4 linked regions of the Homo sapiens genome follow. The protein of the gene in region 1 purifies or fractionates together with the protein of each later gene. This does not show direct contact. Each region holds a gene or a part of one and is shown in the gene's direction. Other genes may lie near its edges.

Evidence for each region.
Region 2: the proteins of PBX1 (region 1) and GRHL1 purify together in Homo sapiens (co-immunoprecipitation; one large-scale study listed by IntAct). This does not show direct contact.
Region 3: the proteins of PBX1 (region 1) and TRIM26 purify together in Homo sapiens (affinity purification with western blotting; one study listed by BioGRID). This does not show direct contact.
Region 4: the proteins of PBX1 (region 1) and SIN3B purify together in Homo sapiens (affinity purification with western blotting, with the first as the bait; one study listed by BioGRID). This does not show direct contact.

What each region holds. Positions count from the first base shown.
Region 1 is NC_000001.11:164,844,893-164,852,426, forward strand, and holds the end of PBX1 (pre-B-cell leukemia transcription factor 1), read left to right. Parts: intron 1-1,691; coding exon 1,692-1,784; 3' UTR 1,785-4,447; coding exon of another isoform or gene 4,448-4,510; 3' UTR 4,511-6,939; downstream 6,940-7,534. UniProt on the Homo sapiens protein: Transcription factor which binds the DNA sequence 5'-TGATTGAT-3' as part of a heterodimer with HOX proteins such as HOXA1, HOXA5, HOXB7 and HOXB8. Binds to the DNA sequence 5'-TGATTGAC-3' in complex with a nuclear factor which is not a class I HOX protein.
Region 2 is NC_000002.12:9,953,184-9,961,069, forward strand, and holds part of GRHL1 (grainyhead-like protein 1 homolog), read left to right. Parts: intron 1-1,731; coding exon 1,732-1,918; intron 1,919-5,602; coding exon 5,603-5,673; intron 5,674-5,690; exon of another isoform or gene 5,691-5,781; intron 5,782-7,862; coding exon 7,863-7,886. UniProt on the Homo sapiens protein: Transcription factor involved in epithelial development. Binds directly to the consensus DNA sequence 5'-AACCGGTT-3'.
Region 3 is NC_000006.12:30,193,687-30,201,572, reverse strand, and holds part of TRIM26 (tripartite motif-containing protein 26), read left to right. Parts: intron 1-434; 5' UTR 435-538; intron 539-2,308; 5' UTR 2,309-2,469; coding exon 2,470-2,907; intron 2,908-3,048; coding exon 3,049-3,144; intron 3,145-4,826; coding exon 4,827-5,057; intron 5,058-7,886.
Region 4 is NC_000019.10:16,861,042-16,868,927, forward strand, and holds part of SIN3B (paired amphipathic helix protein Sin3b), read left to right. Parts: intron 1-1,310; coding exon 1,311-1,518; intron 1,519-1,610; exon of another isoform or gene 1,611-1,842; coding exon of another isoform or gene 1,843-1,938; exon of another isoform or gene 1,939-2,602; coding exon of another isoform or gene 2,603-2,638; coding exon 2,639-2,755; intron 2,756-4,368; coding exon 4,369-4,607; intron 4,608-5,331; coding exon 5,332-5,515; intron 5,516-7,886.

The sequences.
Region 1 (7,534 bases):
TCTGTTTATCACAAACAGCAGGGGGAAATGTCCTCCAACAGAGAAAAGGAGTGAGAGGAGTGACTTGACTGGGTTAGGAGATGGGAGATTGGAACTTGAGAGCAGTTATTTGCTGACCCAAGATTGGGGAGCGGTGTTCTTGGCATTGCTCAGGATGCCCTCTTGGTATCCAGATCTGCTTTTCAGTGAGGTGTGAACAAAACCTACCCTGTTGCTGAAGTAACTGGTAGGAGCTGCTTTGAATTAAAAGCCTGGCTTTCCTGGGAAAATTGGAGCATCATTTGGGTGAGCCAATGATAAAGAAAGCCAAGTGGTTGAAAAGCGCAGAGAAAATGGAGCCCGAATTCAAAGATCTCAAGGCCTGTGTTCTCAGTCGTGAACCGGGACACCTGCTTTTCTCTTGCACCTCTGCTCTCTGATGAATAAAATGGGAACGGCATACTCCAGGTGCCATGGAGTATGCAAGAGTTGAAGTGGTGCTCCCTCCCAAGCAGCAACAATAATACCTGCCCCATCTCCCCCAAATTTTTCAGAGAATGAGAGGATAGTACAATAGAAAACATTTTACCAGGGATGTCTCAGACCTGATCTGTTCAACGTGAACTACAAAGGAACACAGTAATCGAAGGGGGGAAAGGCATTTTAGCACACTTATATTTCAATGCTTTAAAACATATAAGCAATCATGAATTATGCATCATGAATTAACCACTATAGCAAAGCATTCTTCAACTATTTTAGTGCTGGGATTTTTTTGAAAGGGGTGGTTACTAAACAGATTTTTTTAGAACAGTTTTAACAGTTTTATTGTTGGGATGCTCCTGGATCTAGAGTCTTGTAAAATGATCTCCAAATATTGATCAAGCCTATACCTTCCCGTCTCACCACCTCTCTGGATATATTCACACAGACTAGTCCTTATGGCCTTGGCACCATTGTTGTATCTGTTATAGTCACCTGAATTAGCCTCTGTACTTTTCAAAACTCACCTCAAAGAGTGCTCCCTCTATGAAGTATTTCCTGATGTTGCAACAAAATGTGATATTGTTTTCATTTGAAACTTCATAGCAATGGGACTCTACCATTTATTAGGTTCTGCCTTGATTTATAAGTTCATTCGTGGGCTTATCTCCCTCCTTGAACACATGAACTACATCTCACTCATCATTATATACCCATGAGCATCTAGTATAGAACCTTGTGCAGAACAAATACCTGGAATCCCATAAATACATGGGACATCCAGAGTCAGAAAGAACCCTAGAAAGCATTTGAGCCAACCTTCTTATTTTTCAAAAAAGAAGACTAAGGTCAAATAGGTGAAGGTGCTTTACCATCGACATTAGCTAGTTGTTGCCAGAGCCAGAACCAAAACTTGAGTCCCTTGACCTGCAGGACAGCTGTCATTTCACTGCTGGCTGGGACTTAATTACAGAGTCTTTGGGAAGTATAAACACATCATACTAGTGGGAGGTATTAACATCATATCCAGAGGCTCACTGGGAGGACCCAAACTTATTTGAGGGTGGGGGCAATATTATCACCCACAGTAATAGTTGCCCATTTGATGAGTGTCTCCATGTGCCAGGCACTATGCTAGGTCCTTTACACAAGATGCCTCATTGTCATTGTCTGCTGAAAACAGCCACCCAATCTCAGAGGACTGACTTCTCTCCCTTTTTCCCTTCTAGGCTAATGGAGGTTGGCAGGATGCTACTACCCCTTCATCAGTGACCTCCCCTACAGAAGGCCCTGGCAGTGTTCACTCTGATACCTCCAACTGATCTCCCAGCAATCGCATCCCGGCTGACCCTGTGCCCCAGTTGGGGCAGGGGCAGGAGGGAGGGTTTCTCTCCCAACGCTGAAGCGGTCAGACTGGAGGTCGAAGCAATCAGCAAACACAATAAGAGTCTCCTTCTCTTCTCTTCTTTGGGATGCTATTTCAGCCAATCTGGACACTTCTTTATACTCTCTTCCCTTTTTTTTCTGGGTAGAAGCCACCCTTCCCTGCCTCCAGCTGTCAGCCTGGTTTTCGTCATCTTCCCTGCCCCTGTGCCTCTGTCCTAGACTCCCGGGGTCCCCGCCCTCTCTCATATCACTGAAGGATATTTTCAACAATTAGAGGAATTTAAAGAGGAAAAAAATTACAAAGAAAATAATAAAAGTGTTTGTACGTTTTCATGCTGGTGGTTTGAGGAGCCAAATTTACCTCACTCGAATCCCTCACTCCCTATGTTAACAGGCAATCCTTCTCTGTTTCTCTTATTACTCTCACTACCTCTTAGCAGGAATACTCCACATTGCCCTATTCATTCCAGGCCTCCCTGCTTCCTCTTGCTCTTCCTCCCTGGGGACAGTACTGATTGGAACACTTTCCTCCTCTTCCTTCCTAGCCCCAGCTATTCACTGGGGACTGTCATAGCTGGGATTCTAAAGGTGCCACATTTTTCAGTTTCATCTCCACTAGGTTGGTTCCCGGGCAGGAAGTCAGGCAGCAGGGAAGGACACGGGAACAGCAGGTGGAGAATTCCTACAGTCTTTCTTACCCTGCTAGCAATAGCTCTCAGTTTCAGAGGCACAGTCTTTGGAGACCATTCAGCACTGAGAAAGCAATATTTAGAACCTATTGCAAAACTGGGCCTGAGTTAGGCATGGTGATGAATGCATCAGCAAGGAATAGAAAGTTCTTATCGTGAAACCCTTCAACCTCAACTATGCCTTCATAGACACACACGTTCATGCACATGTAGGCACATGTACCATCTCACATCTTCACTTTCCCGAGATGCCATATACAATTACCTACATTAATAACTGTAGCACTATGCCTTTTGAGCCCGAGAGAGGGAATTAGTGACTCTAAGTGAAGGTCACTGACACAGAGAAGCAGTATGTGTCTGGGGCTTCCAGGACCTGCAGGCCCACTAGCGTGCACTTACCAGAATGGCATACACAGGACCTGATCATGAGGAAGACCAGGTTTCCAGTGTAAACTACTCTTGTTCCCACCACCTCTGGAGCACTCAGGGAGCCCCATACAGTACTTACAATGTCTTTAATGGACTTGATTCTGTTTAATTTTTTGTTTTATATTAGGCACACTGTATTAATTTTCCAAAATGTTATACCACACTATGTTCTTGGTCCTGACCTATTGCTCTGGAGGAAAGAGTTGTATAAGAACGTGGCTCATGTGAACTTTTGCTAGCTTCATTTGAGGACCTGAGAATCATGGGGAAAGGGAAGGTAATGTTTTCATTGAAATCATCACAGTGATTTTTATTCCCTGGGAACACAGCGTGTACTAAAAATACATGAGAAAATAGCATGTATATGAAAGCTATTCTCAAAAGTCACCTGAGCTCACCATCTTCATAGCCAACCCTACCAGTTATAAAGATGGCAGCTCTATCACTTGATTAAGTGGGAGGTGGTCAAATATTTTGGTGCCTCATTTTCTTCATCTGTGAGATGGGAACTGTTATGCCTGGCTTACTAAGAGTCTTGTGAGAGACTGAGAAGTTGATTTTGTTCATATCCAATCTGTAAATGCGAAGTCAGGGGAAGTAATGTCCCTGAAATAAACGGGTTCATGCCATCTAGGGACAATAAATGGTTTTCTTGTTGTAACTTCTGGTTAATATCAGTACCTTGATGTCATCACCGTGATGACAAAGAGAAGAGTTATTGTTGATCTTCTTGGTTTTGGTCTGTCTCTTTTCTTAGGATAAAGAAAAACTTCCAAACTAGAAAAACAGGCCCTGGTTCCCTTAGTTTGCACTTGAACCCAATATGTTGCCTTGTACATACTTGGTCCCTGTCACATTGACTGCTTGGGAGGCTTCCAGGGAGAAGTATGAGACCCTGAGGGGTGAGAATGGGCAGCTAGCAAGAACATGGAAATTCTGCTTGGCACTACAGTCATAAATAGAAAACACTGTGTGTGCTCAGGGGAGCAGGGGATGCCACTGAAGAAACTCAAGGGAATGTGTATTTGAAGGAAATGCAAAAACTAAGTATTTAGCAAAATGAAATTATGCCTTGATGACTAAAAGGCACTAGAAAGGTTGTGTCTACTAACTTCAGCCCTAATCAGAACAGATGCCTAGAAGGAGCATTTTTGTGACAACTTCATAGTGATTAGAATCAGTGGAGAACTCCATCTTAGTGGCAGGAATATAATGAAACTACCCACGCAAGAACATGGTTGAATCACATTTGCTTGACTTAGGGCAAAGTACGAAAGAGAGACAAAAGGGTTCTCTTGGAAACAAGAAGAGTGACTCCAGATGTGGCCTGAATAATTGCCATGTTAAGTTAATGCAAAAGATCAGAACAGGGCTACATTTGCACAGGCAGTTTCTCTCCGGGCCGTAGTTTTCACTGATGATCACCTTTCACAGCATTTTCCCCAACCAGCATTTCACTTAGTCTTCTCTATACCCAGCACCTCCCCCGGCACCCCCGGCAAGCCCACTATCACTTCCGACTTCCAACGTGGCATCCGTGAGATCTGTCCACATTAGGCGAAGCAGGAGAACACTGAGAGCAGCAGGATGGGTTTGGAAAGAGCATGCCTCTGGAAACACAGCTTCCTGGGAATTCACATGAGGCCAGTCCTACAGAGAGCAAGATGCACCCCAGGATTTCTTCATTTTCTAATAGATGTGGGAGTGCTCCATTTTCCCCGACAGCGAATTTCCCCTGAGAAACGATACTAGACCCTGGGTTTGCCCACCTTGTAACTCTTCCTTATCTCCTCCTTTTCATCCCTAATCCATCCTCCCTCTGGCATGGAATTGACGCCCGTGCAGTACATTTGCCAAGTGGCACCTTCTTTCAATTTATGTTTTATTTTGCTATGGTGGTGATTCTTTATTTGCTGGTTGTCTTTTCTCACACATCTTTCTCTCTGTCTCTCTCTTTCCTGCTCTTTGTTTTTCTGCCCAGAAAAACCTGACTTCGATACCAAAAAAGATGAAACTACAGAAACTCAAATTTAAAAAAAACTTTAAAAGAAACAAAAAAATACTCAACGATTCTTTCAGCTTTATTAACATTTTCCATTGTTTCTTGCGACTTGTGTCTCGTTCTTTGTAGTATTGATGATGAACATTTGATAATGAATGTTCTTGTATATTCAGATAAAGAAAAAAAAAACCAAAAAAGCGGTCTGAATTTAATAGTGTTTATAATAAAAATTTTAAAAATGACCCTCATAGCACGCAAAACAGGATGGGGAATTTCCCCTCTTCTTTCTGTGACAATGCGCATCATTCCTGCATTAGTTTTTAACACCAGACTACCTACATTCATCATTTCCCTCATTTTTCTTTTATTTTCTTGCATTTGTGAATTAGTTCAAGAATGCTAGAAAAGTGTCGAGTTGTGCACATCCATTTCTTGTTTCACAATGTTTAAAAGTGACAGTAATTCATTTTGTAAACTAAAAAAAAAAAAAAAAAGGTTGGAATAGTGAGCATAATAGGTACAACCTAACACATTATTATGTTTATTAACTTTGAGACCCAGAAATAAATTCTTTTCTTTTCTTGATTCTTGCTCTTAAAAATACAAAAAAAAAAATGTTTTGTTTTGTGTTATTTTTGGTTTGTTTATTGGGGGGCTTTTTTTAATTGTCAGGATTATGATCTTGCTGTTTTTCTTCAATATGTATACAAGGTGATGTGAAAAGATGACTTGGGCAGAGGAGTAAGAACAAGTAGGCTTGTTCTTCTACTTTGCTTCAGAATTCAGTTAATGCCAAAAGCGAAGATCAAGCCCATGTTGATGTCTCGTTGCTCACCTGCATTTCCAGAGAGTGTGACACTCATGCAGTCCCTGAGAAAAATAAAATCAGGGACATACTTCTCCTTTTAGCCTTTTAAAAATTCAAAAACGTTTAGTCCAAGGGAACTTTTTATGCTATCAGGAAAGGTTTTTGCTGTTTTTGATTCTGATTATCACAGCCAAGTACTTTGTTTTATTTCTCCCTAATTAATAACTACATTCCATGAGGCCTCTTCCAACCAAAGAGGCCTTTTCTTCCAGGAGAGTCCCGCAGGAGATGCTGGTATGATGGGCACCATTGGTTAAGTAAACTACATGCAGGAAGAAGTCCTTGGGGCCAGTCTGCCAGCTGAGTCCTGGTTTTGGATGAAGAGTTAATGAGATATTGGGCCAGGCTCAATGCTGTAGTTTTAATGCTAAGAGGTTACGTTTACTTCACAGAGTACACCTCTTAGTAACCTCTGACTTAGGCAGCTGCTTAAAGCAAATTGCAAAACTGGCTTGATTTGGAATGTTTTTATTAGAGGAAAAAAGAAAGCCATATTATCTGGAAAAAAATTCATTTTAAATACCATCATTCAACAAATTATGTTCAGAAAGTGGTCAGAACTTAAGCAAGAAAAGTAAAGAAAGAATGCAGAATTGTGGAGCAATGCTTTAGGAAATATTTCTACCTGAACACTTGTACTCTTGAAGTCACAACAAAATAATGATGAGCTTTTCACATCACCTTTATGGTTTCAATCCCTAGCTCAAAGCTTCCTGGAATCTTTTATTTTTTGTAAACTTTTTTTTCTTTTGTTAAAATAAATAAAACATTCAATGTTTTTCTCCTTTTCTCTCTTATTACTTCTTTCCTTTGGCATTTTCAATTTGAAATGCTTTCCTTTGGTTGTTGGTTTTATTCTCCCCCTACCCCTCCCCTTTTCTTATTATTCAGAATATAAACCTGCAAAGCTCTGCTCTGTTTTGGTTTTGAAAGTTTAAGCTTTTCTGCTTCTGTGAGAGCACAGGCTTCTGTCCCTTTTGATTCCAACTGAACTTTTGTGTTCTCTAATGATACTAACACGGTGTAGGTTTTACAGTCTCCTAATTTGTACTGGTAATGCATATTCCAAATAAATAGTTTCTTTTGTTGCAAAAAAAAATACTTGTATTTTGTGCACATTTCTTTTCTTACATGCTGGCAACTTCTCTTTCCCCAAACTAGGCCTGCATTAGTGTAGATTATGGTTTAAACTGTTGCCCTAATCACTGAAAAGTCTACATACTATGGTGGTGGGGCAGAGACCTTATGGACCACCTTCTTCACTCAGGAAATAAGAAGGAAGGAAGGAAGGATCATTTGTGGGTAAACAATAGCTGTATTACAGAGGGACAGAGCACCCCATCTTGTCTGCTTGCTACTGGCAGCCATCCACCAAGCACCAGTTCAGAGAAATGCCAGGAGTATTTTCCATAATAAATTCTAAGTTCCTAAGTCATGGCTGTTTGCCCAGTGATTCTCCTTTTCTTCTCTTTGTCTGCTGTGATCTGGTCATAAGAAAAATTGTGGTTCCCAAGAGATATTTCAGGGGAAGGAATCTAGGTTACAAATAATACCCAGTTGTAGGCTCTCAGGAGTGTGATAGATGTTACTCCCAACAGATGTGCATCTCTACCATCTGTTATGCCTACCATCCCAAAGGAGCATCTCTTCCAATAGTCTGCACTCATATTGAACCCCTGACCTTTGAGGTTTCGA
Region 2 (7,886 bases), on another chromosome or scaffold:
TTCTTTCTCTGTTTTCTATTGCTTGTACAAATTTGGGATGTGGGTGGGAGAAGAAGGGAAGTTGAAAACTAGCATTAAGGGAATTGAACAGCCAAGTGCTGTCATAGTCTTCTGGAAGTAGCTATTACGCTATTAATTATAGCTTAGCAGTACATCAGTCAATCAGTCCATGGCACCAGCCGTTCAGTAGCTGTTGTACTCTGGTCCTGATGGCTCAGGGAATGCCACTTTGTATATTTCTTTATTTTCTTTAAAGTTGAGATTTGTGTAAGCAATCTTCTCCATTTTTAGACAAATGATCTGCTGGCTTTGAACAGTCTTTTATGTTTGTTTTGTGTTAAAATAGTATACCACCTCAAGACTTTCTTACCAAATGTAACGTTTATGCCAAAACGTGAGTAAAAACATTGGCTTTCAAATAACACTTCATTTTGACTGAGGATACATTGTTGGATTTTTTTCCCCTTTTTTGAAGATGTTCTCCTTTTTCTAAATCTGTATCTGTTCTTAAAGGCCCTGGGTGACTCCCAAACGCTAACCTTTGTTGATTACTTGAAAAGATAATCAGTCTTTCTACATTCACTTTTAAAATAGGCAGGTCACCTTTAGGCCATTTACATATTTCATTTGTGTGTTGCAATGAGAGCCAGTCCTTCAATTTGCTTGTTAGAATTGTAATAATTCAGAGGAGTTCCAAACATTTAAAATTTATTTTTCTCCTTGAAAATAAACTGCTTTGTTTTGCTAGAGTCAGTGTTCCATTTTTTCTCTTTATTGACTTATTAAATAGTACCAACCGAACAGTTGTTGAGACTGTTTACATTTCAAGTTTTTGGAATTAGTAATGTTTGCTTTAATCTTTTAAATTAAATCTTCTGTAAGGTTTCACTAAGATCGCCATTGATTTTTTTGGATTTTTCCCACCAAACTACAGTGTTAAAATGAAACAGTTCTTGTGCAATGTGGAAAACTAGCAAAGATTTTTTAAAAGCCAGATTTTCCCACCTATTTTTTTTAAAACTTTTTGTTCAGTGGCTTCATTTATTGTTGGATATCCTTAAGTGTTTATCTCTAAGATAAACAGTTAACTCCCATGCCAGAAAATTATGCCTCTTTATTGATTTACAGTCCCCTTTGGCCACATTCCATGCTCAATCTGCTGGTAATCAGTAGAATATTCTGGCTTTCTCATATACCCTGGAGGATTGCGTGAAGGATCCCTTTTTCTTTCTGCTGCTTCTCCCCTCCCCACTGTGTTCAGGTAGGAATTTTTAAGGCATGGCAGCCACAGTAGAAAGAGGGAATAACATGTAGCAGTGTGATGAACGGCACACGCTCTTCTCAAGAGGGGACAGTCCTGATTGTGTGTTGGAAGAGAACAAGTATTCTCTTTTCTTTACTGTGTCCTTGTGTTTGTTTATGGAAAGTATTTGAATAGCCTGGCATTTTCTCGGGGATGGTTTTGTTTCGCTTTTTTGCCAAATAGTATACCCTGGGTTCCACGTGTAGGTGAACTGCCAGTTCTCTGGCTGCCTAGATACTTTATGTCTTACTGTGGGACCCATTGGTCTGCACTTACGTGGTTTGTCTTCTGGTCTTGTCTTAATTTGACTTCCTAGGGTCATTGATGAAACAATAGGCTATTTTATAGGAATGTCAAGGAATTGGTAGCTTATGATACCTTGCAGTAGAAAAGTGTGTGTTTTTGTTTTTTTTTTAATTTCTCTGAAGCAAACGGCCAGTGTTGGTTCTTCAGAATGAAGCACTTTATCCACAGCGGCGGTCCTACACTAGTGAGGATGAGGCCTGGAAATCCTTCCTGGAAAACCCTCTCACTGCAGCGACCAAAGCGATGATGAGCATCAATGGAGATGAAGACAGCGCCGCTGCGCTGGGCCTGCTCTATGACTACTACAAGGTGGGTTTGCCTGCCTTTAAAACCCTTAACAGCAGTCTCCAATGCACTTGATTCAGCAGCATAGAAACAGACATTTGCTGGTAGAATGCCATGCAAGTTGCTTCTGTAGTGACTATAAATAGTTTAATGAGTACTTTGACTTACTGTGATTCGAAGCTAAAAATCTGTGATTGTAGAATCAAAGGGTTGTTTTTAAAACATGCAAAGCGGTCAGCTGCTGTGGCTCTATCCAGAAGGTGAAGCTACCGTAAAAGAAGATGCTAGATGTGCCTTCTTGGGTTTGAGCATCTCACTGAAGGTGGTTCTTAGTGCCATGGAAAGTGGGCAGGGGTCATTTACCTTTTCACCTTTGTTCCTGGGTAGTCAGGATGATTTCCTTTCCCTAAATGATACTACAGAGCCTTTGAAATCATATTCTGTAGTCTAGGACTGTCCAGTTCCAAGATCAGGATATGTTTTGTTGCCTGTTTCTAGAGATTTGGAGTACTCTTAATTAAATATAATCTATACTCTGCATGGAATTTTACATGATTTTCATTATCTGGAAGTGACACTACTGATTTGTCTCATCATCATTGTCCTGATAACACTAGCTGCCACTATTATGCTAGACATGTTACCAGCCTGCGTGCGACTTCTCACTCAGAGGTCACAGCTAGGATGTGTGCATCTGGGGCCCTAGTCTGGTCCATGGCCGAGGCCACTGTCTTTCTAATGCAGCGTGCATACCGCTCTCCTTCTGGATTCACCTCTCCATTCTTCCTTCTGACCAGAAACACACATTTGGGGGTGGCTACGTCTTTAGGGTGCTACTTAAAACAGCAGACTGAGTTGAAGCACAGCTTTGCCACAGGGCCTTTGTCTCATTGTCACTCTGTGTGACTAACCTGTGTAATCATTGTGTTGTCATCAGTACCTGTATAAAAACAGGATCTGTTTGGGATTACCAGAAGCTTCTTAATGACAGTGTCTTCTCATGAATGTAGTGTATATTTTTTACAGTTTATTTTTGCTATCTTTTTGTTTTAAAAACTTTCAAACCTGCATAAAACTTAAAATAAGAGGATAATTAATTCCTGAATACCTTTACCCAGAATCGCCAGTTGCTAGCCATTGGCTACATTCTGGCACTGTATTCTTTCCTTAATACAAGAAATACAGAGGTGAAAGAAGCCTAGGAGATAGTTTTATTATTAAAATTAGGGTGATTAGCCTGAGCAACATGATGAGGCCCTGTCTCTACCAAAAATAAATAAATAAAAAAATACAGAAATTAGCCGGTTAGTACACATGCCTATAGTCTCAGCTACTTAGGAGGCTGAGGTGGGAGGATCACTTAAGCCTGGGAGTTGGAGGCTGCAGTGAGCTGAGATCATGCCATATCACTACACTCCAGCCTGGGTGACAGAGACAGACCCTATCTCAAAAAAAAAAAATGGGGTGATTATTTCCTAGTATGAGGCCATGCGTCTAACTAAGTTGGGGCTGAGGGATTGAGGTAAGCTCTTTTTTCTTTGAATATGAGCAGAAACTTGTGTAATAACTAATGATGCTAGAAGAAACTCTTACCAGGGAAACATAGCCATGAAGAGTTCCTTTGAAGTGGAAATTATTATATATCTGTTCTTATAGCTTGTTTTATTGACTTACTATAAATTAAGTTCCTAAAACATTAATTATGAAGTTACATATTTTTAACTGAAACTTTTGAGAATGGGAGAAACTCGTTGGTACAAGTTTTGTGCCAGAAAGGCCCGTGTGATAACACTAGGTGTACTACTCCTGCGTCTCAGAAGCATGTAAATCCTCATGTCTGTCCATGAAGGGTGACAATTTTAGTGGTACTTACTTGTCAGACTTCTTGTGATAGGTGTAAATTTATTTTCTTCTTCTTCTTCTTCTTTTTTTTTTTTTTAATAGAAGCAGAGTCTCGCTCTTGCCCACGCTGAAGTGTGGTGGTGCAGTCATAGCTCACTGCAACCTCAACCTCCTGGGGTTGACTGATTCTCCTGCCTCAGCTTCCTGAGTAACTAGGATTATAGGTCATGCCTGGCTAATTTTAAAATTTTTTGTAGAGAGGAGTCTCACTATGTTGCCCAGGCTGGTCTCAAATTCCTGGCCTCAGGTAATCTTCCTGCCTTAGCCTCCCAAAGTATTAGGATTACGGACGTGAGCCACTGTGCCTGGCCTATTTTCTTTTTCAAATAAACTGAATTATTTGTTTCAGGTCTTTGGCTGTATAAGCATCAGTCATTATTACATAATAATTTTGATAAAGCTTGAAAAGCATATTGTTAATACATGAAGCAGTATTTTTTTTTTTTTTGATACAGAGTCTCGCTCTGTCGCCCAGGCTGGAGTGCAGTGGCGCAGTCTCAACTTACTGCAGCCTCTGCCTCCTGGGTTCAAGCAATTCTCCTGCCTCAGCCTCCCGAGTAGCTAGGACTGCAGGCGTGTGCCACCATGCCCAGCTAATTTTTTGTGTTTTTAGTAGAGACGGGGTTTTAACATGTTGGCCAGGATGGTCTCGATCTCTTGACCTTGTGATCCACCCGCCTCGGCCTCCCAAAGTGCTGGGATTACAGGCGTGAGCCACCGCGCCTGGCCAGCAGTGTTTTGTCTTTAATGGTGAAAACAAGGATGCAGGAATAGAATTTTCACGCTGAAAGCCATTTTTAAGCACCTTAGCCATTTTGGAGTGCGCAATGGGGTTAAATCTCAGTTGAGTTATTTCTACAGGACACTCACTAACATTTGCCTACTTTTCACTTCCCTTGCAAAGAAAAGAACCAAAAAAGGAATAGAACACTGAGTTAGACTTGTCCTTTGGGTGATGGACGTATGAATCCCAGCGTATCTAAAGACAGTGATCATATGAAGCCCTCATTTGGATCTTAGAAGAAATGAAGGGTTAACATGGCTGTTCCTTCTGCTTTTGCATTTGATCTGAATGGAGGGTGGTAGGAAAGAGCACTGAGAAAGTTGGAAGAGCTCCGTTGTGTTTTCAGTAGCTTCTTCTCTAATGTTGTGTAGATAAACGAGTAAAACCAGGGCAGAGGTATTTCTTTTTTTCTTTTTTTTTTTTTTTTTGAGTCAGGAAGGGTCTTGCTCTATCGCCCAGGCCAGAGTGCAGTGGCGCAATCTCTGCTCACTGTAACCTCTGCCTCCGGGCTGAAGCGATCTTCTCACCGCAGTCTCTCTTGTGTAGCTGAGACTACAGGCACATGCTACCACGCCTGGCTAATTTTAAAATTTTTTTTGTAGAAATGAGTTTCACTGTGTTGCCCAGGCTGGTCTTGAACTCCTGGGCTCAAACAATCCTCCCACCTTGGCCTCCCAAAGTGGCTGGGATTACAGACATGAGCCACCAGCTGTGGCCAGCGGAGGTATTTTTTTTTTAAGAGATGAGACCCAAACTCCATGACAAAATAAATTTATCATGCCCTGAGTTTATTTGGCAACTCAATAACAGTTGCTTTTTACATATCAACCAGATGGGTGACTAGATTTTAAGCTCGTTGAGGGCAGATATTATAATTTGTGTGTCCCCATAGCCTGGTGTTTGCTAGGCAACCAGTAGATAAATGAATGATTGAATTTACTGAAAAATAAAAGGCTGTATCTTTGGGTAAACTGCACTTCACTGGATAAGAGCTAAATTCTTTTCATGTGTGCTAATATCAGGTTCCAAGAGAGAGAAGGTCATCAACAGCAAAGCCAGAGGTGGAGCACCCTGAGCCAGATCACAGCAAAAGGTAACATTCAGTGCCTAACAGCATAAAGAGTGCAGGGGGAAATGCCACGTTTCTGTAACAGCAAAATGGGAGTTTGTTTAAATGAACAACCACTAGTGAAAGAGATAGGTAAGTTGGACTCTTACTATCTAAATTCAGATTTCATCACTGATTTGCCTCTGTTGCTCTGAAATTTCCTTTTTTCTTTGGGCGTAGTAGTTGCCTTTTCTAGGATGAAAGCACTAACATTCTCCTCCTCCAAAGGGATAGTTTTAGTAATAACTTCAGTATTTGCTTATTTGTTTTTGAGGTTTTCTTTAGAAGGATGTGTGGCAGTGGTCTATTAAAAAAATTAAGCACCAGTGACTCTTGAACAACTGCCTGAGTAAAATTGAATAAAGCAAGTTAAATTGTATTCAAATTCCTGTTGAAATTATTTGTGAAATATTTTAGATTAAAACTTTCAGAAAATTTAATTAACGTTTGGCTAGCCATGAAAAACTTTAAAAAGACACCTTTTAAATTGTCTTGTGTTTTATTATCAATCAAGGAATGAAACATATTTAAAGGAAGAATGATCATCACCCAGTATCCCATTATCGTGATGATTGCTTTATTCATTGTTTTGATGTGTATGCAAATTTTATGTAGCGTAGTTGTGTTCACAGATAGGATTTGGTAGTGTACTTTCTTCTACTTAGTTTGTTTCATAAACATTTTCTCTGTATTTTAATCTTCATAATTATCCTTTGGAAGAGGACTTGTGGCTTTTATCTTTTACTTTTCATTATGGGCATTTTCAAACATAATAAAAATAGAAAAACAGTATAAGCCCACATGTATCCATGACCAGCCTCAACAGTTATCAACACAATTCCTCTTGTTTGATTTGTTCTTCCCTCTTCTTCAACTTTGAGATTAATTCATGTTTTTATTTTATTTATTTTTGCTGGAACATTCTGAAGCAAACTGTAAATATCCTTACAATTGCTGCTATATCTAGTTTTCACTATTAAGAAGTCTTAAGGAACAACTTTCTAGACTTTTTCCGTTTTAGGATAAATTCCTGGGAGTGAATTTATGGTTCAGGGTTCAAACAGTTTTATTGATCTTGAAATGTACAGAATTCTCAATTTGCCTGTTTCTTGAAGCTTCAGCCTATATGATTTCTGGGGGCTTTGAAAATTCATTCATTTTACCCACTGGAAATCATCTTGTATTGCTCAAATTATTTATCAAACCAAAATTTAATTTTATAAAAAGCAGATGTGTCTACTGATGCAATGTAACAATAGGTTTTCTTGGGTGAAAGAGAAAGCCAGGCCCGGCACAGTGGCTCATGCCTGTAATCGCAGCGCTTTGGGAGGCTGAGGCAGGTGGATCACCTGAGGTCAGGAGTTCGAGACCAGCCTGGCCAACATGGTAAAACCCAGTCTCTACTAAAAATACAAAAATTAGCCAAGTGTGGTGGCGTGCGCCTGTAATCCCAGCTACTCGGGAGGCTGAGGTGGGAGAATCGCTTGAACCCGGGAGGCGGAGGTTGCAGTGAGCCTAGATCACGCCATTGCACACCAGCCTGGGCCATAAGGGCAAGACTCTGTCTCAAAAAAATAAAAAATTAAAAAAAAAAAAAGGAGAAAGCCAAATGGCATAGGTGGTAGGAAAAGTGGTGACCAAGTAATAATAGCTCATACTTCTTGAAGACTGTGTGTCAGGCATTATTATACACCTTTTAGTGTATCATCTCATCTCAACCTGATGAGAATGGATGCCATTATTGTCCCCATTTTGCAGATGAGGATTCAGTTACTAAGAGATGAAGTAACTTGCTCAGGTGACACAGAACTTGAACCCAGGCAATTTGACCCTGGCGTCTATGCTGTAACCCCAGTTGATCAGATCGCATAGCTTCAGGTTTCTAGTAAAACACAGTAATTGTTTTTAGGATTATGGAAAGTAAAGCTTGTTAGAGGAGAGCTCTGAGCCCTTAGTATTTCGAATGAAATTTTACTTAATAGGTTTGGATTTTATTTGACCGATAACCAGAAAGCCTTTTTCCCTTTATCTAGTAATGGGTAGTTTTGATGTTTTCTGTTTATTCTGTCAAGTGTTATTGCACAGGACCCAACAGCCCAATGCCATTAGGAAAATAAAAATTGTCAAAGAACTACATCAGCATCGCGTTTGAAAGCAGTTTTCTTTTCTTAAAGAAACAGCATACCAATTGTGACAGA
Region 3 (7,886 bases), on another chromosome or scaffold:
TGCCCGGCCAATTCCTAGCATTTCTACCAGCATTACTAACATGTAGGAACTTGATATTACTTTCACTTGACAGTTAAATTCCTTGAATCCTTCATTTGAGCTTTGAAGGTGCTTGATTTTCCCCTCATTATGTCTCTTAAAGTCACACATACCTAGATCCATTAGTGCTTCCAGTTGGAATTTATTATCAGCACTATAAGAATCTCTTATATTTATGTAGTCCTTTTACGTTATAAAACACTTTTTATGTATTATTGTACTAGACCCTCAATGAGTGGACGTTATATCCCTGTTTTGTTTACTCTTGGGTCTTATAGACTGGGGGTTTTATTTCTGTCCCATTAATGTCACTACTGACAGAGGCCACTGAACTCTGTTGTGATGGACTTTCACCATACATAATCATTAATAGTATTGATTTGCCTGTAATTCAGGTTGCTTCATTCCAGCCTCGCAGTCACCTCTGTGCCCTGCTGGTTGTCTTCCCAGCGCTGCTGTAGTTGCCTTCCATGGATCTATAGGAGAGCAAGTCCTCCAGGTACTGCCCTGTGACGATGTTGTTGAACTCTGTAGCACGTGTGTCACTGTGGCTGGTTCTGCTCACTTCCTCTTTTGCTGCCACTTTTGAATTTAACTCTTTGTTTGTGGTTTGGACACTCACTGGATTTGGAAACCAGGGGTTGTGGGTTCTCTCCTAGATTTCCGTCTGTGTACCAGGCTTGTGCTTAGCACTTTTCCCATAATTCTTTCACATGACCTGCTTAGAAACCCTTAAAGGTAAGTATCACTCTTCCCATTTTACAGATGGATACACTGAGGCTCAGTACTTAAGTGACTTCTGTATTGTCACACAGAGTCAGGGGCAGGAGGCTGCTCTTGGGTTAGATGTGCTGAGGCTCATAACCTCAGCCTGGAACTGGGTCAGGACTACAAAGGTAAACAGAAGCAGAGTCCTTTCTGTGTGTCCCCGCTCCCTGTACAAGCCAAGGCCTCACAGCACATAGCAGCCACAGCCACCTGAGGATTCCTGCCATCTAGACGAGGCAGTTACAGCCAAGAACAAGTCCACTGAGGCTAAGCTGTGCTCCTCTGGAGGGCTGTGTTTAGAGTCCAGCCTTCTAGGGGAAGCAAATTAAACCCAAACTATAGAACAGCCCAGGGAAATACTCACAAAGGGAAATGCTGACAGTCAGACTCCTGAAGCTTCCTGATGCTTCTCGAGTTTTGGTAAAGAACCTCAGTGCTGTTTGTTTGTTTGTTTTTTAATGTTTTCTGGTTTTTTGTTTGTTTTGAGACAGTCTCTTATTCTGTTGCCCAGTCTGGAGTGTAGTAGTACAATCATGGCTCACTGTAGCCTCCACCTCCCAGATTCAAGTAATCCTTCTGCCACAGCCTCCTCAGTAGCTGAGACTACAGATGCATGCTACTACACTGGGGTATTTTAAAAAATTTTTAAATTTTTTTAGTTGAGACAGGGTCTCACTATGTTGCTGAGGCTGGTTTCAAACTCCTCGGTTCAAGTGATCCTCCTGCCTCAGCCACCCAAAGTGTTGGATTTACAGGGTGAGCCATGTCACATTGCCCTCTCTTAGTTCTTGAAACCTGAAACCTTGAGGAGCAAACAAAAGGGGTCTCTTGGCCAGGTGCAGTGGCTCACGCCTGTAATCCCAGCACTTTGGGAGGCCGAGGCAGGTGGATCACGAGGTCGGGAGATCAAGACCATCCTGGCTAACACGGTGAAACCCCGTCTCTACTAAAAATACAAAAAATTAGCCAGGTGTGGTGGTGGGTGCCTGTAGTCCCAGCTACTCGGGAGGCTGAGGCAGGAGAATGGTGTGAACCTGGGAGGCGGAGGTTGCAGTGAGCTGAGATCACGCCACTGCACTCCAGCCTGGGCGACAGAGTAAGACTCCATCTCAAAAAAAAAAAAACCAAAAAAAAAAAACGGGCGGTCTCTTGACTCTGTCAGGACCCCCATGACTGCTCGTGTGTCTTGTGCTTTGCACAGTTGAGTGAAGGAGCACTGTGTCCACAGTAGACATTGTAGATTTATATGTGTATCATTATGAGTTTCCCAGCAGGTAGTGAGAGATTTTTTATTACAGTTGGTGCATTACAGCGATTTTCCAACAGATAGAAGGAAAGGGTGTTGAGGCTCTCCCAACAGCAAGGTATAGGCTAGTGGCTGTCCTGCTCTTCACTCTACCAAGCTAATCTTTCTGGGTTTCCATATCCTTATCTGTACAATGAGGAAGTTGGACTAGATCTATAAGGTCCTCTTCTCGTTGACATTGTGTGAACCTTGTAGGAGCTGGTGGTGTCTGTCGATTGACTGAGTGCTGGAGCTGGCAGCCCTGTGCAGGCTGCCACCTTTGCCCCTTTACTGTGCTTGCTCCTGACTCTATGTCGCGTCTCCAAGGAGAAGAAGTCCTCACCAGTGAACGGAGACCTCTCTGAACTAAGGATACCATGGCCACGTCAGCCCCACTACGGAGCCTGGAAGAGGAGGTGACCTGCTCCATCTGTCTTGATTACCTGCGGGACCCTGTGACCATTGACTGTGGCCACGTCTTCTGCCGCAGCTGCACCACAGACGTCCGCCCCATCTCAGGGAGCCGCCCCGTCTGCCCACTCTGCAAGAAGCCTTTTAAGAAGGAGAACATCCGACCCGTGTGGCAACTGGCCAGCCTGGTGGAGAACATTGAGCGGCTGAAGGTGGACAAGGGCAGGCAGCCGGGAGAGGTGACCCGGGAGCAGCAGGATGCAAAGTTGTGCGAGCGACACCGAGAGAAGCTGCACTACTACTGTGAGGACGACGGGAAGCTGCTGTGCGTGATGTGCCGGGAGTCCCGGGAGCACAGGCCCCACACGGCCGTCCTCATGGAGAAGGCCGCCCAGCCCCACAGGGTAAGCCCTCTTCACCCCCGAGGGTGCCTTGCCACCTTCTCTGGATGCTCCACCTTGCAGTCCTCAGAGGACTCAGCCTGAGTCTCCCTTCCTGCCCCAGCCCAGAGCATCCACCTGTTGCCACTGCTTGTTTTTCCACAGGAAAAAATCCTGAACCACCTGAGTACCCTAAGGAGGGACAGAGACAAAATTCAGGGCTTCCAGGCAAAGGGAGAAGCTGATATCCTGGCCGCGCTGGTAAGTGAGGCTGTTTCAGGAAGCCCTGAGGCGGTGCGCCCGTGTAGGGCAGGGTGAGCCTGGGCAAGTAGGCGGCAGCTGGGAGGTGTTTCTAGGCGCTGCTCACAGGGAGGATGGGTGTCAGCCTGGCAGTAGCAGACCTGGGTTTTAGCCCAAGTGCTGTCTTTCTGAGCCGTGTAGTCTTGGGCCTGTTTCTTGTCTGAGAGACAAGTGGGCTGCCTGGATGTCAGCTAGAGTCCCTTCCGTTTTCTGTGACTGTCACCTTGAAGGCAGGGCCCATGTCCAGCTGCTGGTTCTCTTCTGCCAGGGGACTGAAGAAGGTGTGGCTTCATTCTTCCTTTCAAAGAGAGAGAGAGAGACAAGGTTGCCTGAGAGTGGAGAGGGTTTAGAAGGAGGGAGCTGGCTCCAGGGTAAGAACTGAGAGGGAAGGGCTAGAAAACAGCTAAGGCAGGTCTGCCAATTCTGATGGCACTGTATGTAGTGAGGTCCAGGCCCAGGATCATGGTTGCCAGTACAGTGGGACCTCCTCCATATCTGTGGGTTCCGTAGCGGCGAATTTACCCAACCATGGATCAGAAATATTCAGAAAAAAGAAAAAGCGTCTCTACTGAACATGTACAGATTTTTTTTCTTGTCATTATTCTCTAAACAATTCAGTGTAACAGCTATTTATATAGCATTTACATTATATTAGGCATTATAAGTAATCTAGTGATAATTTAAAGTATATAGTAGATTTTATGTAACTATTATTCCATTTTACATAAGAACTTGAGCATCCTTGGATTTTGGTATCCTTGGGGAGGGAGATCCTGGAACCCATCACCCACTGATACCAAGGGACAACTGTAGTTAGAAAACAGGCAGCACATTATGTACTTGATTAGAGATGGGGTTGGGGGGAACTGATCAAATGGTTCTGATTTTCTGGGGAACTGTGTATGTTGAGGAAGTGGGCAGTGGAGGAGTAGTGGGGTCAGGGCCAGTGGTGAGTCATTAGGCCTAGGGAGAGGGAAACAGTAAGCTAGAGACAGCCAAGTCCAAGGACCCCTCCAGGCCCTCAGTGTGCATGGCTGCCCCCAGCTCAGCACCAGTCAACAGGGCCACTGAGGACTCCCCCAACCCCAGCTGGGGAGGAGATTTGGAGGCAGGAAAGGACATAGTCCCTAAGCACAGACGTCACACAATTTTGCTGAGGAAACAGGATGCAGTCTTACATGGCAGGGGTGGGGTACATATAGATATTTTAGACTGAACAGTGGGGTGCTGAAGAGAGGGCTGGTCAGGCTTAGATGACATTAATCAAGCAAAACTTCCTGGAAGAGGTGACAGATTTTGTCCAGGAGGGAAAAGTGCGTCGGCTCATGAGTGAGACCCACAGAGTTTCTCTAGGGGCCCCAGAGCGTACTGGTTTAGCTAGAACAGATTGTGGCTGACCAGTCAGGTGGAGACAGGGTTTTGACCATATAGTGGTGGGGTGAACTGAACTAATTCATTACTGGAGTCTTCTTTGAGAAGCGGAGTGTGGACCAGGAACCCTCTGTAGCTCCTCCCACTCCAGATCCTGTAGAATTCCTGAACGGGGGTAGCGAGGTGAACGAGCCAGCCTTGCACACCTCCAGCACTGGGCCCTCCACCCTGAGCAGAGGTGTCAGCCCTTCTCCCCTTCCTGCCCCCTGCAGAAGAAGCTCCAGGACCAGAGGCAGTACATTGTGGCTGAGTTTGAGCAGGGTCATCAGTTCCTGAGGGAGCGGGAGGAACACCTGCTGGAACAGCTGGCGAAGCTGGAGCAGGAGCTCACGGAGGGCAGGGAGAAGTTCAAGAGCCGGGGCGTCGGGGAGCTTGCCCGGCTGGCCCTGGTCATCTCCGAACTGGAGGGCAAGGCGCAGCAGCCAGCTGCAGAGCTCATGCAGGTGAGAGGCCGTCCCTGGGCAGGGCGCCAGGGACCAGGACGGTGGGTCCCAGCCCTGCCATTCACTTGCAGGACCTTAGAAGACTTGGGGGCTCAGTTTTGTCATCTGAAACATGGAGATGATAATCCTTACTGCTGCCAATTAGTCTGTAGATTGCATGAGCATAAAATGAAATAACTGGCATGCTGTCACTTCAAAAAATAAACTTTTTACACAAAACTGTTCAAAAAACTAAATGGTATAGTAGAAAATGGAAGGGAAGATTATTAATATCATTTACCATCCTCCATCCTCATCACTGCCATCACAAGCCCTCTTAACAAGTCATTGGCAGACACTTAGCAGCTGGTGGAAGCTTTTTATGGTGTTGTGGTTGGGGGTGGCTGAGGGAGGGCTGACCAGCAGCTCCTCTCAAAGACCCAGAGGATCTGGAAGAGATAGGGTAACTGGGGAAGGGAGACAGAGATGGCCAGGTTTTCTTTGGCCCATGGGATTACCACACAGAGAACAAGATGGAAAGCAGACAAGGGGGCCTCGGGGCACCTCCTAGAGGAGGGGGCTTTGATAGTGAGAAAGGGAGGGTTTGGGGCTGAAGAACTGGCTGTGAAGCTGAAATGGCACCACATCTCCTCCCCCCCGGGAGCCTCTGGGGATCACACTTACCCTGAAGAGGGCCCAGTCCCCTTTGGAGGGGTAGAGGGCTCAACCTTCCTGCTCTCATAGGCTGGGAGGGGAGGGGCTCTCTGATGGTATTCCCCCACTTGCACTGTTTAGGGTGGCTGGGTCTGTCTGTCAGCAGCAGAGCCACCCAGGATCTCTAGGAAGGTGGAGTCCCAGGCTAATGGCAGGGCAATAGCTAGGAGGGAGAGATAGCAAGGCAGACTCTGCAGTATGTGCACTGGGACAGACTGCAGAAGGAGGCGGCCACCTGCTCCTCATTGTTGTGAATTCAGATGTACAGAATGAGGACTGGCAGGGATTTTAGACCTTCCAGTTCAGCCCCTACTGATGAAGTCACTGAGGTCCAGAGAGTGGGAGGAGTTTGTCCCAGGCCATGGGGTGGGTGTCAGGTCACAGCTTGAGCCCAGATGTCCTGACTCCTGGGCTCTGAGCTCTTGTTCTTATTTTGTCCAGAATGTCTCTCTGGCCCCCTCTTTTCCTCCAGATGTCATTCTGTTCTCTCAGATTTCTCTCGTCATACTCTTTGACTGGGTCATTTTCTGCATCTCCTTTTGCCCGTTTCTCTTCTCCTTCCTCTCCTCACGCCCCTGCCATGTGTGAATGCCTACTGTGTGGAACAGAGGCACACAGCTGAGGATGTGGTGGGGCTGAAATCCATTGTGTTTGCCCGGAGGGGTGCCTTTTCCTAATGCACCCAGAGAAGTGGCCCTCAGAGCAGAAGCCTGGCCCTCAATGACTCAGAGCACTCAGATTGCAGCTCTCCCTGGGGTGGGATAAGGTCAAGGGAAGGGAGAGAAAATGGTGTCAGCTTGAAACTAGTATAGGAAATGTTATTGGTACTGGTAGGTTTCTTTTTTTGTTTTGTGTTTTCTCTTTTAATTTTAGTGCTATATAATGTATATATTTATGGGATGTAGAGGTTTTTGTTTGTTTATTTTTGAGACAGAGTCTCGCTCTGTCTCCCAGGCTGGAGTGCAGTGGCGTGATCTCAGCTCACTGTAATCTCCGCCTCCTGGGTTGAAGCAATTCTCCTGCCTCTGCAACCTCTGTCTCCTGGGTTCAAGCGATTCTCCTGCCTCAGCCTCCCAAATAGCTGGGATTACAGGCGCACATCACCACACCTGGCTATTTTCTGTATTTTTGGTAGAGTCAGGGTTTCACCATGTTGGCCAGGCTGGTCTTGAACTCCTGACCTCAGGTGATCGCCTGCCTCAGCCTCCCACAGTGCTGGGATTACAGGCGTGAGCCACTGTGCCTGGCCTAGAGTGATACTTTGATACAAGTATATAATATATAATAATCAACTCAGAGTAATTAGTATATCTGTCACCTCAAACACTTATCATTTCTTTGTGTTGGAACATTCAAAATCCTCTCTTCTAGCTTTTTGAAAATGTATAGTAAATTATAGTTAATTATATTCTCCCTGCAATGCTGCACAACACTAGAATTTATTCTTCCCATGTAGCTATAACTTTGTATCTGTTAACCAACTTCTCCCCACCCTCCTCTCCCCAGCCCCCTTCCCAACCTCTAATCATTACTATTCTACTGTCTTACTTCCATGAACTCAAATTTATTATGGATGAATAGTACTCCATTGTGTATATATGCTACATTTTCTTTATCTATCTGTTGATGGATGCTTAGATTGAGTCCACATCTCAACTATTGTGAATAGTGCCACAATAAACATGAGTGTGCAGGTATCCCTTTGATATACTGATTTTCTTTTCTTTGGATAAATACCTAGTAATGAGATTGCTGGATCATATGGTAGTTCTATTTTTAGTTTTTTGAGAAACTCTCATACTGTTTTCCGTAACGGCTATACTTATATGTAGAAAAACCTAAAGGCCCCACCAAAAAACCCTTAGAACTAATAAACAAATTCAGTAAAGTTGCAGGATACAAAATCAACATAAAAAGTCTACTGCATTTTTAATACACCAATAACAAACTAGCTAAAAAAGACATCAAGAAAGCAACCCCATTTACAATAGCTACAAAAGTAAAATAAAATACCTGGGAATGAAGTTAACCAAGGAGGTGAAAGACCTCTTTAATGAAAACTACAAAACACTGATGAAAGAAATTGAAGAGGACACAAACAAATGGAAAAATATTCCATGCTTGTGGATTAGAATT
Region 4 (7,886 bases), on another chromosome or scaffold:
GTCTGATACTATTTTAAACAGAAATCCAGGTGGCATTGTAGGGTCATTTGCATTAAAGCCTTCCTGTTGTCGACCACAGCCATGACATTATGACTTTCAAGCTTGTGTCCAGAGAGGGGTTCACAGAGAGAAGTCTCCCTCATGAGAGGAAGACTGTGGATCAGAGATAGGCAAACTTGATCTCTGAGGGGCCAGATGGGCTTTGTGGAAATGACTCAAACCCCTCTTGTGCAGGCAGCCACAGGCAGTGCGTACACAAGTGGATGTGACTGCAGGCCAGTGAAACTTTATTTACAATGGGATGGCTAGGCATGGTGGCTCACGCCTGTCACCCCAGTACTTTGGGAGGTTGAGGTGAAAGGATCACTTGAGGCCAGGAGTTCAAGACCAGCTTGGGCAACATAGCAAGACCCCATCTCTACAAAAAAATTTTTAAATTGGCCCTGCATGGTGGCTCACACTTGTAATCCCAGCACTTTGGGAGGCCGAGGCGGGTGAATCACCGGAGGTCAGGAGTTTGAGACCAGCCTGGCCAACATGGGGAAACCCCGTCTCTACTAAACATACAAAAATTAGCCGGGCATGGTGGTGCATGCCTGTAGTCCCAGCTACTCAGAAAGCTGAGACAGGAGAATTGCTTGAACCCGGGAGGTGGAGGTTGAAGTGAGCCGAGATTGTGCCATTGCACCCCAGCCTGGGCGACAAGAGTGAAACTCTGTCTCAAAAAAAAAAAAAAAAAAAAATTTAGCCGGGTGTGGTGGCACATGCCTGTGGTCCCAGCTACTGAGGAGGCTGCGGTGGGAGGATCTCTTGAGCCCACGAGTTTGAGGTTGCAGTAAGCTGAGATCATGCCACTGCCCTTGAGCCTGGGCAACAGAGTAAGACACTATCTCTAAAAAGAAAATACCAAACCAAACAAAACACAGGCAGTGTGCAGACTGGCTGTGGCTTGCCACTCCCTGGCCTGAAGCCTGGCCTCTTCCAGTCAGGGAACATCAGGGGTTCCAGCTTCTGCCAGTTTAAGTCATCTTTTCTGGTGTATTTCAAAGCCTTACTGTGAGTATGGGATTAATAGGCACAGGAAGGGACCTGGTGTGTGACAGATGGGTGGGAGGCCCATTCATTCACACACCCCGGGACTTGCAGTGACTTCCTGTGTATTGGATTCTTCCGCCTCTCATTCGCATCCATGATGTTGAATTCTGACTCTGTTTAACTTGTAATGTCCACATGAAGCCATTCTAAAATCTCCAGATCCCTCTCAGAAGGCCCTGGGGATGACCAGTTACCATGTGTCTTTATCTTTGAAGGAAATTTCCAGAACTCTTTGCACAGTTCAAGTCCTTCCTGGGGGTAAAAGAGCTGTCCTTCGCGCCACCCATGAGCGACAGATCCGGGGACGGGATAAGCCGGGAAATTGATTATGCATCCTGCAAGCGCATAGGATCCAGCTACCGGGCACTCCCCAAAACCTACCAGCAGCCCAAGTGCAGTGGGAGGACAGCCATCTGCAAGGAGGTAGCGCTCCCTGGGGCTCAAATGTTCGTTGACATGGTGCATCCCCCACCCCTCCCCAGCAAACACCCGATACCCCCGTTATGAATGAAATGCTGTGTGCTCAGCCCTCCTGAATGTTGGGTTATGGGTGGTGCTGGGATGTGGCCCGGCAAAACCACCTGAGCAGAGACAACAGTGTTGTACCCTGCTGGTAGTTTTGGCAAAACACAGAGTGCCAGGGATAACGTGGAGTTCGGCTTATTCATCTGTTATTTGACTTAGGTTTATTGCTGCCATGATTCTGCTCTGTCCCGGGCTCACTGACCTCAGTGTGTTTCTGTTTAGCTTGACCATTGGACACTTCTCCAGGGTTCGTGGACAGACGATTACTGCATGTCCAAGTTCAAGAATACCTGCTGGATTCCAGGATATAGTGCAGGGGTCAGCAAACTCTGGCCCACGGGCCCTGGCCCGCTGCCCGTGTTTGTAAATAAAGTTTTACTGTCACACAGACACAACCATTCCTTTACATATTGCCTGTGGCTGCTTTTCTCACCACAAAGGCAGAGTTGAGTATTCATCTGGGATGGCCTGCAAAATCTGAGATGGTTGCTGTCTGACCCTTTGCAGAGAGAATTTACCAATGTCTGAAATGAAATCGGCCCTCCGGATCTGCAAGTTCCTCATCTGTGGTTTCAACTAACCATGGATTGAAAATACGTGGGGAAAGAGAAACCAAAAAATGACAATACAGCAATAAAGCGTAATCCACATTTTAAGAATGCAGTGTAACAATGATCTACACAGCATTTACATTGCATTAGGTATAAGTATTCTAGAGATGATTTTGCATAGGATATATGCAAATAGGATTCCATTGGACATCAGGGACTTGAGTATCTGTGGATTTGGGTCTTCAGGGGTGGTTCTGGAACCAATCTCCCAGGATACCAAGGGAGTGTCCACTTGACCAAAGTCATGTTTTTCCTTAAAAACTTTATGCACCTTCCCATTTGTATAAGGCAGTTGGTATTATGTATCAGGATGGTATTATGTATCTTGGTACTTTCTACACTGGCTAACAGTAAATCTTGGCTCCTGGGGCATGCAGCGTCATTCACGGCATTTCCTCTTGGTGCAGGTACTGAACGACACCTGGGTCTCCTTCCCTTCCTGGTCTGAGGACTCCACGTTCGTCAGCTCCAAGAAGACACCGTACGAGGAGCAGCTTCACCGCTGTGAGGACGAGCGCTTCGAGGTGTGTGTGCTGCTGTGGCCGGGTCCCCCGGCATGTGCCTGTTCCCCTTCTCCATGGGACATGCATCCTGATCCTCCTCCACTGCCCCAGTCTCGTTTGGAGGAGCAGGAATTGCAGCACATTCCAACAGCTCCTGGAAGCTTCCTGCCGGGTCTTGCTGGCCTTTGGGCTGGCTACCAGATGGCACTTTTCTTTCTGTTTAAAAATTTTGTTTGGGCTGGGCGTAGTGGCAGACACCTGTAATCCCAACACTTTGGGAGGCCAAGACAGGTGGATCATTTAAGCTCAGGAGTTTGAGACCAGCCTGGGCAACATGGCGAAACCCCATCTCTACCAAAAATACAAAAATTAGCCGGGCGTGGTGGCGGGCGCCTGTAATCCCAGCTACTCGAGAGGCAGAAGCAGTAGAATTGCTTGAGCCAGAGAGGCCGAGGCTGCAGTGAGCCGAGATCACACCACTGCACTCCACCCTGGACAACAGAATGAGACCCTGTCTCCTAAAAAGTTTCTTTAATGTAAAAATTAAATTTATTTTTATTTTATTTATTTATTTATTTTGCTTGCTCTGTTTCCCAGGCTGGAAGTGCAGTGGCGTAATCATGGATCGCTGCAGCCTTGACCTCCCAGGCTCAAATGATCCTCCCACCTCAGCCTCCTGAGTAACTGGAACCACAAGTCCATACTACCATGCCCAAGTTGTTTTTTTTACTTTTTTTGTAGACATGAAGTCTCACTGTGTTCCCGAGGCTGGTCTCACACTCCTGGCCTCAAGCGATCCTCCCACCTTGGCCTTCCAAAGTGCTGAGATTAAAGGAATGAGCCACCACACCTGGCTAATTTTTTTTTCCTTTTTTTAGAGACAGGGTCTGTATTGCCCAGGCTACATTAATTTTTGTAATTAAAAGTTTTATTGGCTGGGCACGATGGCTCACGCCTGTAATCCCTGCACTTTGGGAGGCTGAGGTGGGAGGACTGCTTGAGGCCAGGAGTTCAAGACCAACCTGGGCAACAAAGCAAGAGCCCATCTATACAAAAAAAAAATTTTTTTTTTTTTTTGAGACAGAGTTTCACTCTGTCGCCCAGGCTGGAGTCCAGTGGCATGATCTTGGCTCACTGCAACCTCCACCTCCTGGGTTCAAGCGATTCTCCTGCCTTAGCCTCCTGAATAGCTGGGATTACAGGCACACCACCATTCCTGGCTAATTTTTTTATTTTTAGTAGAGACGGGGTTTCACTATGTTGGTCGGGCTGGTCTCGAACTCGTGACCTTGTGATCCGCCCATCTCAGCCTCCCAAAGTGCCAGGATTACAGGCGTGAGCCACCGTGCCCGGCCATAAATTTTTTTAATTAGCCAGGCATGGTGGTGCACACCTATATTCCTAGCTACGTGGGAGGCTAAGGTGGGAGGATTGTTTGAGCCCAGGAGGTTGAGGCTGCAGTGAGCTTTGATTGTGCCACAGCACTCAAGTCTGGGTGACAGAGCAAGACCCTATCTCTTAAATACACACACCCCCCCCCCAAAAAAATCCTCTGGTCTCTGAGGTCCCAGGCTCCTCTCTGAGGCCTCTTGAGTTCCCCAGTGGCTGACCCCGTCCTGCCTTCCTTTCCATAGTTAGACGTTGTCCTGGAGACGAACCTGGCCACAATCCGTGTGTTGGAAAGTGTGCAGAAGAAGCTGTCTCGGATGGCGCCGGAAGACCAGGAGAAGTTCCGGCTGGACGACTCCCTGGGAGGCACGTCGGAGGTGATCCAGCGCCGTGCCATTTATCGCATCTATGGCGACAAGGCCCCGGAGATCATCGAGAGCCTCAAGAAGAACCCTGTCACCGCTGTCCCCGTTGTCCTGAAAAGGTGCCCTGTGGCGTCCCGACTTCCCTTCCCCTTCCCCTTCCCCCTTCCCTCCCCTCCCCTCCCCTCCCCTCCCCACTGCAGGGAGCCCTTGGAGAGCTCATTAGTGCTGTTTGTCAACAGGTGTCATCTCCAGGGGTGGTCTCTGAGGCCTAAGGGTGCCTTCCTGTATTTCCCAGTCTCCCACTCCTGAGAGGAGAGCACTGTGACCTTCTAGGACTTTCCACCTTGCACATAATACATCTAGACATCTAAATAACTGCTTTAAGAGTCAGATGCGACCACTACACTGTGGCTTGCATTTTATTTAATGCTGCATTTCGGATGCCGTCCGGCGCTAGTTAACAGGCATTTATCAAGTGGTCACTTTCAGGCAGGTGCAGTGCTTGGCCCTGGGATTATGCAGCTGAGTGAGGCAGACCCAGTCCCTCTCTTGGGACTCACAGCTGAGCAGGGGACCTGAGTGGTTGAGCCAACAGCCATGCGGAGAGTGCTGGGTGCCAGGGAGGAGGTGGAGGAACCGGGAAGCCGGCCACATTGGCTCTGTAAGGCCATCACGCCCTCCCTCTGACGTGCACAGAGCCCACTGCACAGACTAGGCTGGGAGCTGGCTGGGCCTGGGTCCTGGACCCCCAGTCAAGTCCCAGAGGAAGACAGGCCAGCCCTGGGATGCTTCAGGGAGGATGCCCTGGCTTGTCCCTGGTGCTGACCTCTCTTCCCCCCGCAGACTGAAGGCCAAGGAAGAGGAGTGGCGGGAGGCCCAGCAGGGCTTCAACAAGATCTGGCGGGAGCAGTATGAGAAGGCGTACCTCAAGTCCCTTGACCACCAGGCTGTGAACTTCAAGCAGAACGACACCAAGGCCCTGCGCTCCAAGAGCTTGCTCAACGAGATCGAGAGCGTCTACGACGAGGTAAAGCCTTCCCTAGCCCTGCCGGCCGGTGGGGGTGGGGTCCTGGCTCTCCCGACCGCCGGGTCTGTGCCTCTGTTTCCCTGGTGGTTAGGCAGGGTAGTGGCATTGCCCTTTCAGGGCTGTGTTGAGGCGAGGGTTCATGTCTCTGTGATGCCCAGCCTGTGGCCTGCCCTAGGAGAACCAGCAACTCTGCCATTGTCTATCTGTTTGTTTGTTTGGAGACAGAGTCTCGCTGTGTTACACAGGCTGGAGTGCAGTGGTGTGATCTCAGCTCACTGTAACCTCAGCCTCCTGGGTTCAAGTGATTCTTCTGCCTCAGCCTCCTGAGTGGCTGGGACTACAGGCGCACACCACCACACCCAGCTAATTTTTATATTTTTAGTAGAGATGGGTTTTCACCATGTTGGCCAGGCTGGTCTTGAACTCCTGACCTCGTGATCCACCCACCTCAGCCTCCCAAAGTGCTGGGATTACATGCGTAAGCCACCGCTCCTGGCCGACTCTGCCATTGTCTAGCGAAGTCTCCGTCCCTCCCGTGGGGCAGTGATGGACTTTGGCTTAGGTAGTGGGTGGCAGCAGCCTTCATTTCTTTCTTGCCGACTGTGCCAGGCACCGGTGTTAGCAACACAGAAAGAGTAATGCATCATCTGACCTCACTCCTGAACCTGACTCTGCTGCGGCATTATTCTGATTTTACCAGTGGGGAAACTGAGGCACAAGAGGTTGCATTTGCCTGGGCTGGTCGCAGGGGGCCAGGGCTCTGAGTCATTGGGTTCGAGGCTTTCGGCTGCATGTCCTCACTGCAGGCTCACAAGGCCTGAGTCATAGAACCAAGGCCAGCGGGGCCCTCAGGTTGCCAGGAGCTGGGCCTGTTAGTAGCTGTGTGTAGGGAGTGCCTGCTTGCAGGATCCTGAGGTGGGAAGCTTGGCAGGGTGCCGGGCGTGGTGATAGCCAGCTGTCGGGAAGGTCCTTGGACACTCTGAGGAGGTGGCTTAGGAGGGCACACTACTCCCCAGGCAGTGCCCAGATCATGGCACGGGCTGCGTTATCAGCCTGGTGCCCACCTGGGCAGGGGGTGTTGCCTCACCTGATTTGGTTTCTTGCTCCTGTCACTGCACAGTGAGCGGTCGCTCCTTCTTTTACAACACAGAAACGGAATCCACAGGAGCCGGGCTGCTGGCCCAAGGCCTCTCCCAGAGCCTGTGGGACTGTGGGGACCCCCTTCCCTCCCACCTCCCTTCCCGTGGGCCACCCTCGCCCCAGGCCCACCCACAACCACTCTGGCTTCCTCACTCTAGTCCTCGGCGATCCTCAAGCCCAAGACCCCGTATAGGTTCTGTGGGTCTGTGGTGTCTGCAAAGTGCAGATGATGAAGTAGCCCTGGAAATCCACCAATGCGACCCTGAGTTCCTGGATCCCTCCCTGGGGCTGGGGCTGACAAAGGGAGGGGCACCAAGGTTCATATGCAGATCTCTGCACATGCAGGTCCTTGATGAATTCCAAAGTCAGAACCCCATTCCATCACGTGATTTACAAAGCATGGTTACAGATCATGGACATGGGGACCCTGCTTCAGAGGGGACTGTAAAGGAATTTTCAGAGTGTTTATGGCATAAATGAGACCTGGGGGACTTAGGAAGCAGTCAGAGGGCGATGGTCACACTGAAGAGCCCAGAGCAGGGCTGAGCGTGCAGACTCCTAGGAACCAGGTCAGTGTGCTTGGCCCTACCAGCCTCTAAGCCGCCTTGCAGGGGAGGAGGAAGGGAAACCTCAGGCTGCTAGGAGACCCGGTCCTTCCCTCGGGAGCCTGCAGAGATGGCATCCACGCTCATTTTCCCCAAGAGCCCTGCTGCGTCTGCCTCCCTGCCTTGGACTGAGGGGGTTGGGGCTGCCCAGCAGAGGCCCTGGGTGCCAGGACAGTGGTGTGGGAGGCTGGAGGAAGGGGTGATTGTCTAATGGTGTGAGGGAATGAAAGTCATGATCTAGATAAAGACCAAGGGGAGGGGTGAGCCTGGGACAGGGTTTTCCAGGGAGTGAGAGCAGATGGGCATGTGCAAAGGCCCTGCACACGCAGGAGGGAGCTTGGCGCGGTGAGGCTGGAGGAGCTGTGGAGGGGCACATCAGGGGCCGGCGTCTTCTGAGCAGCCTGGGAAAGCCTGAAGGGCATTAGTTGGGGTGACCATGCTCCTGTGGGCCAAGTCACCCTGGACCCAGTGAGGAGAGTGGTTGGAGCAGGCTGGTGGGAGCTGGTGGGAGGGCTGGTGACATGATGGTGGTAGCAAGCACGTGCAGGGGCTGGCGGGGACAGCAGCGGAGGCGGGGGCTTGGTGACGATGGGCGTGCAGGTCTTCAGATGTGAGCAGTTGCAGGC